Homo sapiens: one gene and its partner. The protein of the gene in region 1 interacts with the protein of each later gene in a pairwise test. Each region holds a gene or a part of one and is shown in the gene's direction. Other genes may lie near its edges.

What was found.
Region 2: the proteins of THRA (region 1) and CDK7 interact in a two-hybrid assay, tested with the Homo sapiens proteins (one study listed by BioGRID).

Annotation. Positions count from the first base shown.
Region 1 is NC_000017.11:40,065,883-40,069,698, forward strand, and holds part of THRA (thyroid hormone receptor alpha), read left to right. Parts: intron 1-3,816.
Region 2 is NC_000005.10:69,262,321-69,266,136, forward strand, and holds part of CDK7 (cyclin-dependent kinase 7), read left to right. Parts: intron 1-3,816. UniProt on the Homo sapiens protein: Serine/threonine kinase involved in cell cycle control and in RNA polymerase II-mediated RNA transcription. Cyclin-dependent kinases (CDKs) are activated by the binding to a cyclin and mediate the progression through the cell cycle.

The DNA of each region.
Region 1 (3,816 bases):
AAACAAGCCATGAAGAGGCTCCCCCCACACTGGCCCAAGCTGGAAAAGAACCGCCCCCATGGGCAGTGGCGGGAGCTGGCAGGACCCTGCTGAGTTGGGTCCACTGCAGGGCTCACAATGGCCTTTCTCCACACCCCTGGCAGCTGAGGCCCACCTCAGAGATGCCCAACAGCTGTGTCCTTTTTGCCCAGCCTCAGGGCCTGGTTCTGAGGGCACAGCTGCCTAGACTAAGTATGTACTAAGCGAGGCCCTCCCACCCGTGAGTGCAGGTTCCAGCCTAGAAGGGGTACCTCTTCTGGAGAGGGAATTTGAGGAGGGGGAACTCAGGCAGGAGACATCGAGCCCGGGGGCACCAAGCACTTCTCGCTATGCTCCCCTCTAGCCTTGGACTATTTGGAGGTGGAGGCACTTGGCAGAGAACCCACAGGGCAGCTACAGAGGGGAAAGACTGAGGCTTGGTCTCAGGGAACACATAGCTGGATGAAAGAACAAGGCATTGGGCCGGGCACAGTGGCTCACACCCGTAATCCTAGCACACTGGGAGGCGGAGGCAGGCAGATCACCTGAGGTCAGGAGTTCAAGACCAGTCTGACCAAGATGGTGAAACCCCATCTCTACTAAAAATACAAAACTTAGCTGGGTGTGGTGGCGGGGTCCTGTAATCCCAGCTACTCAGGAGGCTGAGGCAGGAGAATCGCTTGAACCCAGGAGGTGGAGGTTGCAGTGAGCTGAGATTGTACCACTGCACTACAGACTGGGTGACAGAGCGAGACTCCGTCTCAAAAAAAAAAAAAAAAAAAAAGAAAAACAAAAAAGAACAAGGCATTATCTATCAAGCAGGTGATATACCATCACAGCTAAGAACAGAGATGATGGTGATGATCATGACGGCCATGATTGACCTGGACTGCCTAGGTCTGAATCCCAGCTCTGTCACTTGCTGGATGTGTGACTTTGAGCAAGCGATTTAACTTCCCCGTTGCCTCATCTGTAAATTGGGGATGATCATATCTACCTCATTTAGCTTTTTTGAGGAAAAATGTTTTTAAAAGTGCCTAGTTCATAACAAACTGTATATGTGAGCGGTTGTGATGGGTGAAGGAAGCTGTGGGCCTGGGGTCTCCCAGATTTCTTAGAGAAGCTTCGTGGAGAATTGGGTCTCCTAGACATCAGTGAGACTGGGGCCTGGGGCAGTGGGTCTCCAATTTCCAGCCTTCTCACCGTCATGTAATCTTTTCCTCCCAGACAAATTTTTGCAGCCTGGAATGAGTGTATGGGAAAGAGCCCAAGGCAGGCCCCTCTGCCCCACCCTCCTTTGACCCTCGCCCTTCAGCTTACAAGGAGCCCTTGGCCCCTCAGCCTGGGACACACCCCACCAGCTAGGGGCACCTGCATAAATCTTTGGGCATCACTGCATCTCTGTTCAGGGTCTGAGCTCTGGGGGTGGGAGAGAGAGAACAAGGAAAGCCGTCCCCTCTCTTATGTGTGGGCTCAAAGAGGAGGCAGTGCCCTTCCTCCCTCCTGGGAGCCCAGCATTGGTCAACCAGGACCCAGCTCTGGCTGATAGGCACCAGATTCCCCTGCCCTCCATGGAGTGGTACTTAGTGTGAAAGGTGGTGGCAGAGAGAAACTGAAGCACTGAGTAATGACCAGTGTGGTGGGCACAGCACTTTGAGATCCAGCATCTGTCCTGGGTTGCCTCTTTGCCTTTGTGAGTCTGGTGATCAGGATCCCCTCTCCAAACCCCTTTTATTTAGCCCTGCCCCTCAAGGTGAAGGAAGGACAATGGGAGGATACCCTGTAGGGGTGACGGGAAGCCTTTGGAGTGGGAACCAATCTCAACTCTAGTTCTCGGCTGGGCACAGTGGCTCATGCCTGTAATCTCAATATTTTGGGAGGCCAAGGCGGGAGGATCACTTGAGGCCAGTAGTTCATGATCAGCCTGGTCAACATAGTGAGACCCCATCTCTAAAAACAACTTTAAAAAGTTAGCCAGGTGTGGTGGCGCATGCCTGTGTTACCAGCTACTTGGGAGGCTGAGGCCGGAGGATCGCTTAAGCCTGGAAGGTCGAGGCTGCGGTGAGCTGTGATTGTGCCACTGCACTCTAGCCTGAACAACAGAGTGAGACCCCCCACACACACATCCTCTCAAAACAGACAGAAAACAAAACAAAAAACCCAACTCTAGTTCTCATGGCTGCAAAGGTGTCTAGGGGACTTTGGAGAACTGTTGTGTCTCTTGGGGAGGGAGGCAAGCATGACCGTGGTGGGAAGATCACTGGCTGGGAGTTGGGAGGCCTGGCTGTTGACATTCACTAGTCGTATGACTTTGGGCCTGGGTTTTCATTATCTAGAGACAATGGTTCCTGTCTCACTCAGGTTGAGGGCAAATAACACAAGGTGGGATGACCCCTGTGTTCAATCCATGTTGCATCCTGGCATGGTGAGCAATGCCTGTGGATTCTCCTTTTTTCCCAGGGCCTGGCACATGCCAGGGTGGGGCATACACATGCTGCCTGGAACCAGAGACAGTTCTCAGTCTCTCACTGAAGTATCTGGGGCTGGTGTGTGGTGGGGGCACATGTGGTTCCACCTTGGTGTCACTTGGCAGGCCAAAGCTGGGGTCATAGGGACCTCCCTCCGGTATGCCATTGCGTGAGGTGGTCCAGAGGGAGGGTCAGAAGTTTGCTGGGTAGACAAGGGAAGCAAGATGGGTGTTACTGGTGCCCAGGAAATACTATCCTTGCTTCGCTGTTTTGGGGGTGGGCATTAAAGGTTGATACCAAAGCCTCAGCCATGCCCCTCAGCAGTGGCCAAGAGCAGAATGATTGGACCAAGCCCCTGGCCCACCTCCTCCTCCTCCTCTTTTCCTCTTCTAAAGAAGAGATCGGCTCTTGGCTCCCAGAGCCCCAGCTGCCTGTTTCTTTTTCTCTTTTACCAGGCATGGGGGTGGGGAAACAGGGGAACCGAGGCTTTGGTGTCTTTCGGCATTTTTGTACACATCAGTGAGTGGGTGTGTTGTGCACGCATCCATGTGAGAGTGTTTTTGTGCATGTGTGGGCTGGGGAGGGCTCTGAATATCTCCTGGAACGGTACCCAGAGCCCTGTGGCTCTGCGCATGCGGGGTGAGTGTGTGTGTCTGCACGTGTCCGTGTGTGTGCCGGAGACTCAGCTGCATTCACGCGCGCGCTCTCTCCCTCCCTCTCTCCCTCCCTCTCTCTCTCCCTCCCTCCCTTCCTCTTCCCTCTCCCTCTCTCTCTCCCCCTCCCCCTCTCTGTCTCTCCCTCCTTCTCTCCCTCCCTCTCTCTCTCTCACACACACACTCTCAATCTTTCTCTCTTCCCTCCCCCTTCCTCCCTCCTTCCTATTCCCTCCCTCCTCCCTTTCTGTCCCTGTCTCTCTGTCTCTGTCTCTGTCTCTCTCTCTCTGCCTCTGCCAGTTCTGCTTGGTTAGGGGCTAGCTCCAGCCTCTGGGGTGCCTGGGAGAACATCCCTCCCTTTCTTTCCCCCTCCACCATTCCCTCCCCTCCTAGGCCATGCTCTTCAGGGCTTGCAGGCAACTTCTTCTACTGCCTTAGATGAGGGAGTGAGGAGGGAGGACCCCAAGCCTTGTGCCCATGGTGCCATCTGCAGCAAGTGCCTTGGCCCCGTGACATTCATGCCTCCAGCATTCAGCTGCCCCAGCTCCCAGCTCCAATTACCCGCTGGCTGCTGGGGGAGGGTGGGGAGAATGTGCCGTGCCCAGCTTGGGGGTGCTCCTGCTTCTGCTTTCTTGGCTACTTGGATCTCCTGCCTCCATTCCTGAGGGGAATTGGGC
Region 2 (3,816 bases), on another chromosome or scaffold:
GTACGCACTTTAATATTGTTGTTGCAGTTATTTGTTCTGACAGTTTGTATAAGAATTCTTGTCCTAGGCCAGGCATGGTGGCTCACGCCTGTAATCCCAGCACTTTGGGAGGCCGAGGCAGGTGGATCACTTGAGGTCAGGAGTTCGAAGCCAGCCTGGCCAACATGGTGAAACCCCATCTCTACTAAAAATAGAAAAATTAGCTGGGCATGGTGGCGGGTGCCTGTAGTCCCAGCTACTCGGGAGGCTGAGACAGGAGAATCGCTTGAACCTGGGAGGCAGAGGTTGCAATGAGCCAAGATTGTGCCACTGCACTCCAGCCTGGGCAACAGAGCAAGGCTCCATCTCAAAAAAAAAAAAAAAGAAAAAGAAAAAGAAAAGAATTCTTGTCCTGCCAATGTCTTTACAACAAAAAGCCTACAAATAGTCCAATTTTTAAAAAGCCAAATGTAGCATTTTTTAATGTTAATATGAAATGAGAATATCTTCCATTTAGGACAATAAGAACTTTACTGTAGAAGTTTTATACTTCAGAACATAGAAATTCACTTGTAATATGGCAGTATCTCTATAACAACTAAATATGTTCAGATAAACTTTTGTCCTCCTGAGGGTTTTTTTGTTTGGGTCTGTTTTAAGTGCGCTTTAGGAAATGTATAATACCAACCACTGCAGCTACTACTCTGTATAACTTAAGCCTTGTGTGAGACCATTATTTTAGTTCTGTTGAAACAGAACAGATACAATGTTACTATAGCATTTCTGTGACTGAGACCATCATCTTACAGTAAAAAAAATCCCCTGCTTCCCCTCACCAGAGAGAAAGATGCTGACTTGGAAACTTCTCTTTAGCTATGAAGTTTAGATCTCCAGAAAGACTAGCCCTTACGAATGATGAAGGTAAAGGGATACAGGGGAATCCTTCTGAAGCTAGTTTTTTTCTCTCCATATTCTGACCCCTGCTCTCCCTCTCCTTAAGCCATATGTATTTAAAGAAATTCAAACCAAGATTGAATAGCTTTTTTATCTCCTTGAACACAGAAAACAACTTTTGTACACCAAAGAGAAAAACACTAAACTAAAAATGTTTAGTTTAAGCATAGTGGTGGCTCACGCCTATAGTCCCAGCTACTTGGGAAGCTGAGGTGGGAGGATCACTTGTACTCAGGAGTTTGAGGCAAGCCTGGACAATATAGCAAGACCCCAATCTCTTAAAATAAAAAAAAGTAAATTCTGTGCATCATTTTGAGAAACTTACCCAATGGGCATTTGTAGAAGAAACCCACACATTCAAACTTGGAAGGTAATATGGGAATCACAGTGCTAACAGGGGGTCCTGTGAATCAGCTGGCATGATAACTGCTACTTACCTGAACATAGAGTATACCAGAAATTCACACTGAGAATTTATCAACCACCACAATCCATTCATGGCCAAGAAGAAAACAGAATTCCATAGCCCCTAATGTTATGACTGATCACTCCATTGAGAAAGCAAATGAAGAGAGACAGCAGTTGAGAGTAGACAGGTTAGAGATTGTGGACCTGTTAACAATCATACTTGGAAATTTATTAGCCATTGGCATTGTTGCTGGAATCATCTTTAAAGTTATAAGGAAAATGACATGCAGACTAAAGAATTGTACTCTTCTGCCATACCTTTTGTCCTATTTTAAGCTGTTCTTGTGCTCAATTGAAAAGGTAGAAATGTTGCCCATATGAATGCTTAGCCAGGGATCACCAGATAGTTATTAAGGATCTTCAGATAGTAATGAATACTTCCAAAATGAAAGGCAGACTGAAACAAACTAAAAAGAAACTTGGAAAAAATGGAAACAACCAAAGCAGAAGAAAATTCACCGCCCCCAGCCCCCTTTCCAAATATTCAGAGATCTAAGAGATTATAGTGCATCTATAGAATAAGCACACCATACTTTTTTAAAAGGGGAACAATAAAATAAGAGACACTTGAACTATTAAAAATAGAAGATAGCCAAAAGCAAACAAAAACAGTGAAAGGAATGGGAAAGTAAGCTGCAAAACTCTTTCATTAACTAAAATCAAAAGATGAAGAGATGGCTAGGCACAGTGGTACATACCTGTGGTCCCAGCTACGTGCGAGGCTGAGGCAGGAGAATCTCTTGAGCCCAGCAGTTCAAGACCAGCCTGGATAACATTGTGAAACCCTGTCTCAATAAAAAGATAGATGGACTATAGTAGAGAAAAGATAAAATTAACAGATTGATCCAGGATTCTAGAATGTACCAACAGAAAACAAGGAAAATGGAGGGTAGGAAATCTCAAAATAGTGAAGCACTGCTAGATGTGAATCGTCAGACTAAAAGTGCCATGAAGAGTACAATTATGAGGCCGGGCGCAGTAGCTCATGCCTGTAATCCCAGCACTTTGGGAGGCCGAGGTGGGTGGATCACCCAAGGTTGGGAGTTTGAGACCAGCCTGGCCAATATGGAGAAACACTATCTCTACTAAAAATGCAAAATTAGTTGGGTTTGGTGGCACATGCCTGTAATCCCAGCTACTCAGGAGGCTGAGGCAGGAGAATCGCTTGAACCCGGGATGTGGAGGTTGCAGTGAGCTGGAGATCACACCATTGCACTCCAGCCTGGGCAACAAATGTGAAATTCCGTCTAAAAAAAAAAAGGCCAGGCACGGTGGCTCACGCCTGCAATCCCAGCACTTTGGGAGGCTGAGGCAGGCAGATCACGAGGTGAGGAGATAGAGACCATCCTGGCTAACACAGTGAAACCCCGTCTCTGTTGAAAATACAAAAAAAATTAGCTAGGCGTGGTGGCGGGCACCTGTAGTTCCAGCTACTCGGGAGACTGAGGCAGGAGAATGGCATGAACCTGGGAGGTAGAGCTTGCAGTGAGCCAAGATCGCACCACTGCACTCCAGCCTGGGTGACAGAGCGAGACTCCGTCTCAAAAAATAAAAAAAAAAATGAGTACAATTATGAAAATTACAAAGAAAACTTTCAAAAAAAAATTCTAAAGGCTCTGCATGAAAAAAAAAAACCTGTGCCAAGACACACTGTTGTGAAATTTCAGAATACGAAGGGGTAAGAAAAATATTTTATTTGCACAGAGAAGAAAAGCAGCATACATAGAAAAGAAAATAAAGTATTAGGGAAAAAGAATGGCATGAGCCTTCTCAACAGCAGCACTGGAATCTGGAAGTGTTCACATTGTGAGGGAAAATGATGCTCAACCTAGAATTCTTTGCCTGTTCATATTTTCAGTTTGCTCTGAGGGTAACTACAATTTATTACATCAGAAATTTACATCTAGGCCAGGCAGGGCAGCTCACTCCTGTAATCCCAGCACTTTGGGAGGCCAAGGCGGGTGGATCACTTGAGCTCAGGAGTTTGAGACCCACTTGGGCAATGTGGTGAAACCCTGTCTCTACCAAAAATACAAAAATTAGCCGGGCATGGTATTGAGTGCGTGTTTTCCCAGCTACTCAGGAGGCTGAGTTGGCAGGATCACTGGAACCTGGGAATTTGAGGCTGCAAGGAGGTGATATCGTGCCACATCACTCCAGCCTGGGTGACAGAGCAAGACACTAGCTAAAAAAAAAAGAAAAAAAGAAATCAAGAAATTAGCCAGACTTGGTAGTGCATGCCTGTAGTCCCAGCTGCTTGGGAGGCTGAAGTGGGAGGATTGCTTGAGCCTGGTTGTCAAGGCTGCAGTGAGCCACGTTTGTGCCACTGCATTCCAGCCTGGGTAACAGGCTGGGGTTCACCTTTAATTGGGCTCTGCAGGCGCTGCCGCACTCTCCACCTGGTGTGTATAGGGC